4 linked regions of the Homo sapiens genome follow. The protein of the gene in region 3 interacts with the protein of the main gene of each other region in a biochemical or structural test. Each region holds a gene or a part of one and is shown on either strand. Other genes may lie near its edges.

The links.
Region 1: of the proteins of CASP8 (region 3) and NUCB1, one has a biochemical effect on the other in vitro, tested with the Homo sapiens proteins (one study listed by IntAct).
Region 2: the proteins of CASP8 (region 3) and TNFAIP3 form a complex in vitro, tested with the Homo sapiens proteins (one study listed by BioGRID).
Region 4: of the proteins of CASP8 (region 3) and TNFRSF10A, one has a biochemical effect on the other in vitro, tested with the Homo sapiens proteins (one study listed by BioGRID).

The regions. Positions count from the first base shown.
Region 1 is NC_000019.10:48,917,312-48,920,591, reverse strand, and holds part of NUCB1 (nucleobindin-1 precursor), read right to left. Parts: intron 1,889-3,280; exon of another isoform or gene 1,867-1,888; coding exon 1,808-1,866; exon of another isoform or gene 1,701-1,807; intron 1,563-1,700; coding exon 1,470-1,562; intron 1,399-1,469; coding exon 1,306-1,398; intron 1-1,305. UniProt on the Homo sapiens protein: Major calcium-binding protein of the Golgi which may have a role in calcium homeostasis. Acts as a non-receptor guanine nucleotide exchange factor which binds to and activates alpha subunits of guanine nucleotide-binding proteins (G proteins).
Region 2 is NC_000006.12:137,880,536-137,883,812, reverse strand, and holds the end of TNFAIP3 (tumor necrosis factor alpha-induced protein 3), read right to left. Parts: intron 2,779-3,277; coding exon 2,494-2,778; 3' UTR 501-2,493; downstream 1-500. UniProt on the Homo sapiens protein: Ubiquitin-editing enzyme that contains both ubiquitin ligase and deubiquitinase activities.
Region 3 is NC_000002.12:201,267,036-201,270,535, reverse strand, and holds part of CASP8 (caspase-8 isoform 2 precursor), read right to left. Parts: intron 1,027-3,500; coding exon of another isoform or gene 931-1,026; intron 1-930. UniProt on the Homo sapiens protein: Thiol protease that plays a key role in programmed cell death by acting as a molecular switch for apoptosis, necroptosis and pyroptosis, and is required to prevent tissue damage during embryonic development and adulthood.
Region 4 is NC_000008.11:23,197,603-23,201,102, forward strand, and holds part of TNFRSF10A (tumor necrosis factor receptor superfamily member 10A), read right to left. Parts: intron 3,159-3,500; coding exon 3,085-3,158; intron 2,999-3,084; coding exon 2,903-2,998; intron 2,316-2,902; coding exon 2,284-2,315; intron 1,847-2,283; coding exon 1,664-1,846; intron 1-1,663. UniProt on the Homo sapiens protein: Receptor for the cytotoxic ligand TNFSF10/TRAIL. The adapter molecule FADD recruits caspase-8 to the activated receptor.

The DNA of each region.
Region 1 (3,280 bases), on a different chromosome or scaffold from region 3:
AGAATGCACCATTGCACTACAGCCTGGGCAACAAGAGCAAAACTCTGTATTGAAAAATAAACAAACAAATAAATAAATAAATAAAACAGAGACCTAGATTAGCTGGGCATGGTGGTATGTGCCTGTAGTCCCAGTTACTCAGGAGGCTAAGGAAGGAGGATCACCTGAGCCCAGGAATTCAAGGCTGCAGTGAACTATGATTACACCACTGCACTCCAGCCTGGGTGACAGGAGACCCTGTCTCAAAAAATATTAATAAATAAATAAAAGAATGAGCTAGATTAGCTAGGCATGCTGGCATGTGCCTGTAGTCCCAGCTAATAGGGAGGCTCAGGCAGGAGGATCACTTGAGGACAGGAGTTTGAGGCTGCAGTGGGCCATGATAACACCCCTGCACTCCAGCCTGGGTAATCCCAGCACTTTGGGAGGCTGAGAAGGGTGGATAGCTTGAGTCCAGGAGTTTCAGAGCAGCCTGGCCAACATGCAAAACCCTGTCTCTACCAAAAAATACAAAAATTAGCTAGGTGTGGTGCGGTGGTGCATGCCTGTAATCCCACCACTTAGGGAGGCCAGGTCAGGTGGATCGCTTGAGTCCAGCAGTTCTAGAGCAGCCTGGCCGATATGGCAAAACCCCATCTCTACAAAAAATACAAAAATTAGCCAGGCATGGTGGCTCACGCCTGTAATCCCAGCTACTCATGAGGCTGAGATGGGAGGATCGCTTGAATCCAAGAGGCGGAGGTTGCAGTGAGCCGAGATCCCACCACTGGGCTCCAGCCTACGCGACAGAGCAAGACCCTGTTTCAGAAAAAAAAAAAAAAAAAAAAAAATCACACCTCTAATCCCAGCACTTTGGGAGGCCAAGGTGGGTGGATAACCTGAGGTCAGGAGTTTGAGACCAGCCTGGCCAACATGGTGAAATCCTGCCTCTACTAAAAATACAAAAATCAGCTGGGTGTGGTGGCACGCACCTATAATCCCAGCTACTCAAGAGGATGAGCCAGGAGAATTGCTTGAACCTGGGAGGTGGAGGCTGCAGTGAGCCGAGATCGTGCCACTGCACTGCAGCCTGGGCGATGGAGTGAGACTCCGTCTCAGAATAAATAAATAAATAAATAAATAAATAAATAAATAAATAAGAGTCCTAGAGACAGGGGAAAACAGAGACCCAGAGATAGAGATGCAGTGACCCAGGAGAATGGACGGGGACCCAGAGAGAAAGAGAAGGGGCCTAAGATTCTGAAAGAAAGGTCATGGCTAGAAGAGAGAGAGGTTCAGGACCCCGAGTATCCCCCATGTTCTCACCTCCCAGCCCTCCCCGGTGTCCCCAAACTCCTTCCTCTGAGTGGATGCGAGGAACTCCTCCAGGGTCACGAGGCGGTCCTGGTTGGTGTCCACCTGGGGAGCCAGATAAGGGTGAGTGACAGAGCTGGGGGCCCGTCCTCTCCCCCGCCTGGCCCCCACCTCACATTCTTCATCACATGCTCCCGCATGCGCAGTCGCTCCTCCTCCATCTCCCGCATGTCGTCCTCCTCATTCTTTGGGTCGTACACTTTCTCCAGCTGCAGGAGCAAGCGAGAGGCAGACAGCATTGAGAGGTCCCCAGCGAGCTCATTCCCGACAACTTCAACTCCCAGCAGTCCTTTGGGCACGCTACCACTCCTGGGAGCCGTTTTTGCCCCAGGGGCTGATGGGAGTTGTAGTTTTCACTGAGCTCCCATCCAGGGGGATTTAAGGGGACTGCAGGAGGAAACAAGTGGCTGATTTGGGCGTCCCTCCAGGTGCCCGAGGCTTCCAAGATGCTCACCTCCTTGGTGAAGAGTGCCTCCAGCTCCTGCTCATCCAGGACACCATCACTGTTGATATCTGAAGGGAAGAGGATAGCAAGGTATCTCAGGGGACCGAGGACGGGATGTGTAAGGTCCCTGGTGAAGAAATTTTGGGCTGATGTGGGGTCTGTTATCAGAGGACAGGTAACTACGGGTCTCCCGCGGTGGAACGGTGGCCCCCAGGCTTTAGTACCCCACTAGACCCGTTGCTAGGGCCACTGCCTAGCGACCAGGGGGTTGAGAATGGAATAGATCAAAGGGAGGGTTCGAGGAAACATGCTTGGGTCACTGTCATGCAGGATTCTCTGGCCCTGGCATTCAGTGCTCTGGACACAGAGTCAGCTCCAGGGTTATCAGGGACCTCTGCCTCCCAGACAACCAGGCCAGTGCCGACTCCAGTTGTGAGGGGAGCCTCTCCTACCAACGTAGACCCCACAGCTGCAGGGCTTCAGGCTCGGTCAGCCACACTTCCTGTCCTCACCACCGGCCCTCCTTCCTCGGCTCCCTCAGACAAGCACAACCTTCCTCCTGAGGAGGAGGCCAGGAACCCTCATCTTGCAAATCCAGTGGTTAATTTCCACCTGCATCTGACTTGACTTTCTGCCCTTGGCTTCCAGAACATGATTCTGTCCTCTCTGGCTGCCCCTCCACCTCCTTTGACGGCTCCATCCTCTTCCTGACCTCCACATGCTAGTGTGGCCCAGGGCTCAGGCCTGGGGGTCTCTTCTCTGCCTAAACTCTGGATCTGCGCTGTCCAGTACAGTAGCCGCTAGCCACATGGGCTGTTTAAATGTAAATTGATTAAGATTAAAGAAAATGTAGGGGCCAAATTTAGGGGCTCATGCCTGTAATCCCAGTACTTTGGAAGGCTAAGGCAAGATCATTTGAGCACATTAAGTTCGAGACCAGCTTAGAAAAGATGGCTAGACCCCGTCTCTACAAAAAAAAAAAAAAAAGTAAAAAATTGGGCCGGGTGCGGTGGCTCACGCCTGTAATCCCAGCACTTTGGGAGGCCGAGGCAGGAGGATCACCTGAAGTCAGGAGTTCAAGACCAGCCTGGCCAGCATAGTAAAACCCCGTCTCTACAAAAATACAAAAATTAGCCAGGCATAATGCCAAGTGCCTGTAACCCCAGCTACTCAGGAGGCTGAGGCAGGAGAATAGCTTGAACCTGGGAGGCGGGGGTTGCAGTGTGCCAAGATCATGCCATTGCACTCCAGCCTGGGCAACAGAGCAAGACTCTGCCTCAAAAAGAAAAAAAAAATTTAAAAATTGGCTGGGCATGGTGGTGTGCACCTATGATCCCAGCTACTCTAAGGGTTGAGGTGGAAGAATCACTTGAGCCCAGGAGGTCTGGGTTGCAGTGAGCCATGATCACGCCACTGCACTCCAGCCTGGGTGACAAAGGGAAGCCCCATCTCTAAAAATAAAAAAAATGAAAAATAAAAAAA
Region 2 (3,277 bases), on a different chromosome or scaffold from region 3:
TCCATTTGTACTGGATGGGAGGTGGGGATGAAGGCTTGCGCATGGAGGAATGTGTTATTTTTTAATTTCCTGGTTCTGGCAGCCAGCACAGCCACGCTGCCTCCTCTGCTTTGTCTGACCCAGGAGATCTTACATCAGTCTTCCTTCCTGCCTGCCTACTTCTCTCTTTCCTGTCTTTCCCTCCTCCTCCCTCTTGTTTTCTCTTTCTTCACTTTATAAAAGTTTAGGGCAGGAAGCTTAAAAGGGCCACAGGGTCCTAGCATCCCTTTCCTCTTCCCATCAGAGGAAGAGTGTCTTCATTGTCAAGCGGGGGCTTGTGCTTGAGGACTGGGCCTGGACCTCATACAGTTATTATTTATGAAAAGCTGCCTTGCTACCATGGATGAGAGATGTGTGCATTGCTCAGGTGCACCTCAAAATAAAGCTGCTTAGGAAGCACAGTCTTAATATCCAAGCCTTTCTTTTTCTTTCAGCATTCATCAATTGAAAACATCACAATCTGTTCTTAAATAATTTATTTTTTAATGTTGACTCTTGTGAAAAGTTACATTTATTTAGAAAAACTTGAAGAAATCCAACAAAGAATAGGTGGCTTTCTATTAGGGACAATTAAATGTGCAAATTTCAAATACTTTTTATAATAAGTATAAATAATTACTTTTTTTCACATTAAGAATGGAAATAATGATCAACACAAAATATTAAGATATCAACTTTAAGAGAATTAGATGAAAACACTGAAGTTTATTTGGTATCTTTGGAAAGAAATTATAAAGATTCGTCTGGGAAAAACTTAGGGGGCTCTAAGGGGAAAGTGTGCCTAATAGTATGAGTAAAGGCTGTGTAGAGTTATGGATCACAAATATTTTCAGGCCATAAGTACAGACCCCCAAAATGGCAGCCTTTATCTCTGGGGAAAATGCATTTCCCCTCCTTTTTTTTTTTTCTTCTAGAGCAAATATGACAGCAACCACAAAGCACACAGAGAAACTGTAAGCCAGCAACAGAAAGAGATTTCCTCATACTCATGGTTACTGGCTTTTGCTGTCCCAATACCAGGGTACCATGGGATGCAGGGGACTTCCCAGCCCCCCCAGGACACAGTGTTAACAGAAAATAAAACCATCACAAAAGGCCACATCTTTCCCTGTGACCATTGCCAGTCTCATCCCTGCTCCTTCCCTATCTCATCTCCAAGGAGGTAGGACACTCAGAGGCATTAACAGAACACAGAGTATAGTTTTTTATTACATAGCTGGAGTTTCATAAGGAGAAGCACGAAACATCGATGAATATGTATGTATACCTTGGATGCAATTCCTTCTTTCCTGGGGAGGCAAGCAAAAGTGTATCAAAGAGGCCAATTTACTCCCTGTGGTCAGGAACTTGCCCACAGCCTGACTCAAAGCAAGGATGTTCTCTCAGGAGAACACTGTGGCATTTTCCCCAGAGCTGAAGAAATATCTTCACTTAAATAATCTTGAAGTTTGTAATAAAATAAATAAAGTGAATTACACAAAAAGGACTAGAGCTCCCTTTAAAAAGGCAGCTGGTTGAGTTTATGCAAGCAGTGTATACACAAGCTCATGCCCCAACAACAACCAGAAAACAGGTTATTATTATTTAGCCTTCCTATTGTACTTCTAGGGCAGCATTTCAATATAATTTAAAAAAATCCCTCATACATAATGTAAGGGTATATTATATATGTACACACTTTTACTCCTCAGTTCAAGCTAACTTCTTTAGAAGTAAAGACAGTAATAACCCAAAGAGTTACACGTCTTCCCAGTAAAATATTCTAATTTTTTAAAAGGTGCATATTATAAAGAGCAGCTTGTTTTTCTGTCAATGTGAACATGTTCAGTCTCAGCAGCCTCAGAATCACAGTCCATGGATGGTTCTGCATTTCTGCCGGGTCCTCAGGAAAGGAACCGGGCAGGTAGGGAAAAACCATGAACTACAAACACTCTCTGAATACGTCCATTTTCCCTGAGCTTCCTTGAGCTTCTTGCAGAGGGCCTCGCTGCCATGAGGATCTGGCTTCACATCTCTGAGAGATGCTGGGGGAGGGGAGGTGGAATGGCTCTGGCTTCTCCAACCCACGCGACTTGTGTGTCTTTTCCCTTTCTCAGCCAAGACGATGAAGCAGTCCTGATGCGCAGGGTGCAGGGGCCTCGGCCAGTCCCCGCACACCTTCCAAGTCCAAAGAAGTTCCTGGCCTCCTGCTTGGTAGGAGAGGAGGAACCTTGGGCTGAATCTGACATCATCCCTTGCCAGTTACAAGCTTTGCTTTCTAAGGCCACCTGGGAACACTCCCGGGTTACCAAACCTGAGCATCGTGGGCACCACGAAGAGCTTATCTTTCCTCTCCTGCTCAGACACCCTTAAGCCCACTGTTGCAGTGGCAGCTGAGGGGTTCAGAGGATAGCACCATGATGACTGACAGCTCGAGGCCCCACTTCTTGCAGGAGGTGACCCACCTGTTTCCGGTTAGCCATACATCTGCTTGAACTGAAAGCATTCGTTGCAGTAGCCGTTGCACTTGGCATTGCCAAAATGATCACAGGCGGGGGCCCGGCAACGCTGCTTGGGGGGGTCTTCGGGGGCAGGCTCACCCCGGTGGGCCCCAGGGCCCATCCTCTGGTTGGGATGCTGACACTCCATGCAGAGCTCCTCGCTGCGGCAGGCCAGGATGTTCTTGCAGGAGGCCCGGGCGCACTTGGGCCTTGAGGTGCTTTGTGTGGTTCGAGGCACATCTCTGCGCTGGCTCGATCTCTGAGTGGAAAGAACAGGCAGATCATTAAAAAGTCAGGAAACTATTGCTCACATTTCTTAGGGAGAGCACAATGAAATCTCATTGGAGAGTGTGGAGTCTACAAAGAGCTTTACCTGCCTGAGCAAGGGAACAGGAGAGCATTGCAGTCTATGAGCCAGAGCTCTCGAAGGATGTTTCTTTCCAGTCTCAAGGAAAGCTGACTTGGCCCCCAGGGAGGCTGAGGAAAACCGCCAAGCCTAAGTTGGCCTGCAAACTTTCCCTGGCTCTCTTCTGTTGGGACCAAAAACCACTGTTCTTACATAGCTTCCCTACCATTCTGTGAGCAACAGGCGACACACCTATCTGTCAAAGCTGGCTTTTCTGACGCGCCATTAGGTGGAGGCAGGCCCCTGGGAAGCTCTGTCTGTTCGCTCCTTATGATAAAGGATTATTTAAGAAGGGCTGCTTTTTAGATGTCTGTGCTTCTCTTACAAATCAAAGAAGCCTCTGATCACCATC
Region 3 (3,500 bases):
GTCCCCTAGTGGCCAGGTCCGTACCCTTTTTATTTTCATAAACCCAGAGGGTTGTGAGGTGCAATGATTGAGCTCAGCGGACCCAGGCTATTGGTGTTGGAGCCTTGGTTCCACTATCTTTGAGCAGTGTTAACTTTAGACATGTTACACATTTTTTCCTCGTCCATAGACTGAAGATAATTATCCGTAACCACATCATAGGAAGGTTTCGAGGGTTACACAAATAAGTTTATGTGAAGTACTTAAATCAGTCTTTGGCAACACACTAAGTGCTCAATGAGTGATAGGTGTTACTATTTCCTAATCTATGCCTATCACATTTATGTGATTGGCACATTTAGGCTCTTGGAATATGCTTGTCGAATAGGTGAACAAAGGAATGTTTTAGAAGTCAGCAAACCTTTCAATACTATGGTGTAAAGGAAAATAATTTTAATACAAAAACACGTTGACTTTAAAATTTAATTAGAAAAGTAAAATTCTGAAAATAAAAATGGCGTAGAAACAGAAATTACTCAGTATTACCATCTGCCTTATCCCCCTTCTCATGGACTCTCTACCCTAGAAGTGTTTATCTAAAGCTTTCAGTTTGGCCAAAATTGGATCTAATCCAAAGCTACTCTGACTCTTTCACCTTTATTACAAGGTATTTACCCTTTTGCTTTCCTCATTATTGAAGCCTATAGGCTTTCTTGTACCATCACCATTTAGTAATGAACCTGAATAGTTTATAAGATCTTTATTTTATAGGTAGCAATTATAACTGGAAAATAAAATGTCTAGTGTTTTCTTATAATGGTAAGTGGTCACCCTAGCATATTTATTAGCTTCTGGCTAGTATTCAATGATAATGAACAAGCAGTAAGTCAGGATTGCCCGGACCCTTTTATCTCTAAGCCAATACATTAAAGATTTTAAGAGAGATCCTGCCTTATTAATAGATGATCGACCCTCCGCCAGAAAGGTACAGACTGTGTCTGGCACTGGCTGTTTGCTTCAGCCCAGCTCATGCGGCAGAAGTGGAACCTTCAAAGGACCAAGATGGTGGGCACAAGATGAGACCCCCCTCGGCTTTCCTTGTTCTGGGGCTGTGGGTTTTTAGGACTAACTGGCGCCTTAATGAATAAGTGCCTTATAAAGACTTCACAATGCTAGTAAACCAAAGCTATCTAGTGTACTGGTTGAATAGTGTTCTCCCCTCTTCCCCAAAATTCATGTCTATCTGGAATATGAGAATGCGACCTTATGTGGACCCAGGACGTTTGCAGATAAAATCTCATTAAGATGAGGTCATGCTGGCCAGGCGCAGTGGCTCATGCCCGTAATCCCAGAACTTGGGAGGCTGAGGTGGGCAGATTGCATGAGCCCAGGAGTTCAAGACTAGCCTGGGCAACATTTTGAAACTCCATCTCTACAAAAAAATACAAAAATTAGCCAGACATGGTGGCGGGTGCCTGTAGTCCCAGCTACTTGGGAGGCTGAGGTGGGAGGATTGCTTGAACCCAGGAGGTGGAGGTTGCACTGAGCCGAGATCATGCCACTGCACTCCAGCTTGGGCGATGTAGTGAGACACTGTCTCACACACACACACACACACACACACACACACACACACACACACACACAAAGATGAGGCCATACTGGATTAGGTGGGCCCTAATTCCTAATCCAGTGACTGTCTCATAAGAGGGAGATTTAGACACAGAGAAGGGAACATAGGCAGAGACTGCTGTGCCTCATCTACAAGACAAGGAGCACTGAGGATTCCTCCACCCACCCGAAGCAGGGAAAGGCATGAAAAAGATTATTCCTCGGAGCCTCTTAAAAGGGAACCAACACTGTTGGCATCTTGACTTCTGACTCAGGCCTCCAGAACTGTGAAAACACATTTTAAAAACTGTTTTAAACCTGCTAGTTTGTGTTACTTTGTTACAGCAGCCCTAGGAAACTTATATACCCAGAATATCTCTTTCTTTTTTTTTTTGAGACAGAGTTTCACTCTTGTTGCCCAGGCTGGAGTGCAATGGCATAATCTCAGCTTACTGCAACCTCCACCTCCTGGGTTCAAGCAATTCTCCTGCCTCAGCCTCCCAAGTAGCTGGGATTACAGGCGTGAGCCGCCACACCCAGCTAATTTTTGTATTTTTAGTAGAGATGAGGTTTCACCATGTTGGCCAGGCTAGTCTTGAACTCCTGACCTCAGGTGATCAGCTCTCCTCAGCATCCCAAAGTGCTGGGATTACAGGCGTGAGCCACCTCACCCGGCCCAGAATATCTCTTTTTTCACTTAAAATCAAAATGGTCAAGCCTTGGCTGGGCATGGTGGCTCACACCTATAATCCCAGCACTTTGAGAGGTCAAGGCTGGTGGATAACTTAAGGTCAGGAGTTCGAGACCAGCCTGGCCAACATGGTGGAACTCCGTCCTACTAAAAATACAAAATTAGCTGGGCATGGTGGCACACACCTGTAATCCCAGCTACTCAGGAGGCTGAGGCAGAAGAATCACTTGAACCCTGGAGGTAGATGTTGCAGTGAGCCGAGATCATGCCACTGCACTCTAGCCTGGGTGATGAAGCGAGACTCCGTCTCAAAAACAAAACAAAACAAAACAAAAAATAGTCAAGCCTCAAAACAAAAAATAGTCTCTGAGAATAGAAAGACCAGAGCATTCATGGGCTGAGCCATCAGAGGACAGCAGCTGTCAGCCCTGGTTGTGAACCCTTTCCATCTCACATGCCATAGTTATCAACAAGCAAACAGAGACAATGAAATGGGCCCAGAACGAAGACTTCAGTAGAAGTTTCCTGAAAGCAAAGCTAAAATTGCTTTAAGTAGTGTCCGATAATAGGAGATGTTGAAAGAGAGAAAGTGACAATGTGTTTCTGTTTTTAAAGTCTTGTCACAGCATCATGAAGTTGTAACTGAATGGGGTTTCTCTCTCACACCTTTGGTTACCCACTCTCCCTAGGGTGGGGAGAAGCTGAGTTTTACAGCCTTTGGCAGGATGACCCAACGTGCCACTGTCTTCCTATAGAAGCTTAGAACTGTCATACAGCCGGGCTCACAGGAACTGGGCAGCCTCGGTGGAGACTGCCTAGCTGTATGTGCCAGGCCAGCGGCTTACAGCTCCGTAAAGAACTTAGTCATTCGAGTCTTTAAGTGTGGCAGAAAACCCTTAAATCTCATTGAAAATTTTCATAGCCATCCGCAAGCAGGTGGGAGGGGGATTTCAGGGTGGGAAGCCATGATGCTTTACTCAATGGATGGGCAAAGTAAGCACACAATCTGGATATCGAGAGGCATCAAGATAAGAGAGGAAAAAAATGAGAACACTTAGAAAAACTCTATTATAACTTCAGCATACCTCTAAGTAATGTTTCACTTTGAAAAATAAATTTTTATTTTATGGTCTTAGCATTTCTATAGAATTATATATAAGGCCCCTAAATTTCTTAATCTGGCTCCGGTGGGACATCTTCCCAAAGCCTCCCAAGTGAT
Region 4 (3,500 bases), on a different chromosome or scaffold from region 3:
GTTGTATAATTATTTCATTATATATTATAATGTGATAAGAATAGAAATAAAGTACACAATAAACGTAATGTGCTTGAATCATCCCCAAACCATCTTCACCTCCCAGTCCATAGAAAAATTGTCTTCCACAAAACTGGTCCCTGGTGCCAAAAGGTTGGGGACCATTCGTTAATAATATAATGTCTTTTGTATACACATACACTGATGCATAGATTTGGACAAAGAATCACAAGAAATGATATCTCATAGTTACTTGAGGAAAAAGACCCAGGGCACTGCAGAGTGGAGGATGCTCTCTTTACTTACTGAGTACCTTTTGATAGTTTAAATTTTCTCATTTTAAATATATAAACTATTTGTTCATGTCAAAGCACCTTATCAAGCTGGAGATTATTGACCTTTTTAATGTTTGCCTTCTTTTTTTTTTAATTACATTTTTGGTTAGAATAAATGGGTACTAATGCAAGAAAGGAACTGAATGGAACAGTCTAGGTGGAAGGAGATCATTGTCTAGATGAGCATTTAACCTGTGATTAAGGAGGGACCCAAAGCAGAGGGAAATGGGAGAATCGGCAGCTCAAAGGGGTTGGAAAAACCAGACAGTGACTAGAACAATTCAGGGAGTGCCTCGCTTTGCACTGAAACACAAAACAAGTTCCATTTAGATTATAAAGTTATATGCAAAAATCACATCATTGAAAAAAATATCTCCATAAGAAGTTAGAGGAGTTCGTCTTGTGTTGGCAAAAGGTCTTTCTACAGTAGTGAGCAATGAAAAGGTAAAAGTATCTACAGATTTCACTGGTTAAAAATTAAAGCTTCTACACCTGAAAATATTAGAACAAAAAGGGGCAAGAAGAAATTAGGAATCTACTGTCTGAATGTGAGAAAAAGCATGAGTAGGAGAGCAGGCCTTCTCATAAAGACTCTGAGAGACAAGACACTGATCTTACGCAAAAACAGTGAAAACAAAGAAATGTTCGTTTAAAACAATGTTTTCCTAAATAGCAAAAAAAAGAAAAAAAAAGAAAAGAAAAAGCCCTTCAATGTCAAATCAAAATACATGAACTGGTACAAACCAACACTAGGGGGCTGTGTGCATGTGTGTACCTGTATGTGTGGGTACGTGCATGTGTGTGTGCATGTGTGTACATGCATGTGTGTGCATGTGCGTGTATGTGCGTGTACACAGTAAGCAGCACTGTTACAGGCTGACTTGGAAATTGTGCTTCTTCTTGGAATCCTCCATACAACCATATGCAGAAATTTGGGCAGAGATTTAGATCCAAATATGTTTAATGCAATAATAATTTCAGAGTAAATTTAAAATCCCTGCTGTTATGAGCAAGGGCTCCCTAACTTCTGTAGGAGCACACAGTGGAGACCGTGCAGCCTTATTCAGTCATCAACAAACCCTGTGACCCCCACTCTATTCCTCTGGAGCTCCAGTTTCTGAGGACATGGCAAGGACAGGACAGGGACTAAGAAGCAGACATTTGGAAGAGTGCCTGTCCCCTTGTGAGGGTGGCTGCTTTTTCCCACGCAGCCCCGTCCCCTGCAGTCCCATCTCCCTCAGGCTCCACTTCCCCTTTGACCAGGAGAGCCGAGGCATGGCCTTCACCCCCTGCCTACAAGGTCTTGGAGGGGCCTGTCCCCAACTCACCAGCAGACACTGTGCCTCCCCTGGGGACTGTACAGTGACACCTGTCAAATCTGCCGGCTCCTGGCTTTCCATTTGCTGCTCAGAGACGAAAGTGGACAGCGAGTCTGCGTTGCTCAGAATCTCGTTGTGAGCATTGTCCTCAGCCCCAGGCCCTCGTAGGAGACCCAAGCGCCAGAAACACACCTTAGGAAGGCAAAGAGCCAACTCAGAAGCCCACACCCAGGGCTCCCCACGGGGTCCGTAGGGCACGGCTGGACCTGCTGCCACCACCCCCTCCCAGTGAGGTCACTCCAGGAAGTCCATGCTCAGCACATCCAGGACCTGCTGCTGGGGCCAGGCCCTGGTGCTGGGCTTGGGGGCTCACCCCATCCCCAGGGTACAGGCTGTGGGGTAAGGGTCTCACCTGGGCTGTAGGAAGCACAGGGCTACAGAATGGCCCACCAGCCTGTATGATGCTCAAAAGGGCCTGTGTCCCCCATAGTCAATGCACAGCATCCAGGCCACTTCAGAGACTCAGGGCAGCCATGAGAGCACGGGGACCCACCCACCTGGACTACACTGTGGGCAAGAAGCAGTTCCTGAGCCCCTGATGCCCCCAGCTCCTGGAGAAATCAACTCACCCTGTCCATGCACTTGGGGTCCCCTCCACAACCTAGAAGAGAAGACGGTTCCCTTAGTGGCCAGGGAGGGGCCCATGCAGCACTCCTTCTTAGAGGGCAGTGTTGGGCAGGGGTGGGCTGGGGGCTGGGACACTGGACAAAGATCCCCGGGCCTGGGGATCCACATGAGGCCCTGCTAACTCGGGAGATCCTTCAGGAGCGGGGAGCATAAAGGGAAGTAGGCTAAAAACAAACAAGTGGAACATCACTGTTTTCTGCTCTGTGTTTTGCTCTGAACAAAGCTACATAAATCCCACAACCACTTCTCGTCTCGACTCTTGTCATCCAGTTGAGGAGCTGACTGCCCCCTGCCTGGATGGGCCTGACCAGTGGAGGAACTGGCCCTGCCTTCCCAGACTTGGCTGGGAGATGAGGGGACCCCCAGCCTTGGGAGAGGGACGGATGACACCAGGGCCCTAGGGTTGCACAGGATGGGAGGATGGGGGGTGATCACAAGGAGGAAGATAGAGCCCGGCCAGAGACACTAGGACTTGGGGCAGGGGTGAGCGTTTCTGTCTGTGGGAACAGAAGAAGGCAGGGCAGAGAGTGCCCAGAGCCCTTGCCCTCAGCCAGCACCTACCTGAGCCGATGCAACAACAGACAATCAGCACAGCCACCAACAGCAACGGAACAACCAAAGTCACAACCAAAATCACCCATATATTATGTCCATTGCCTGAGAAAAGACAGGAAAAGACAGGAGTCTCGGGCTGCTGGTCCCTGTCTCCTCTGCAGCTGGGGCTTCCCCAGTGGGCTTTGTACCTGATTCTTTGTGGACACACTCGATGTCACTCCAGGGCGTACAATCCTTGACCTTGACCATCCCTCTGGGGCACCTGGGTACACACAGGGAGGGAGGGGGGGGACTCTTGATGGAAAGCTGGCCAGGTGGGATGAAAGAGGAGCCACTCTCCCTGCCCAATGTCCCTGAGAAGGCGTCAGGGGAAGGATAGTCTCCTCGTATCTGCAGGGGGTCCCCCTATGCTCCCTTGTTTAGGCTGGGGAAGGGTCTGAGCATGCACACTTTACCCCCTTGGCCTCCCTGCTCTGGGGTCAGAGCTGCAGTTCCAGGAGCCTTCTGTGCTGGGCACACACTAATCTTCCCTGGGCTGCAGGGGAGGCCTGCGTTAGGAGGAATCACACTCCAGGGGAAGATCACAAGCCCGTGTGGCCACAAG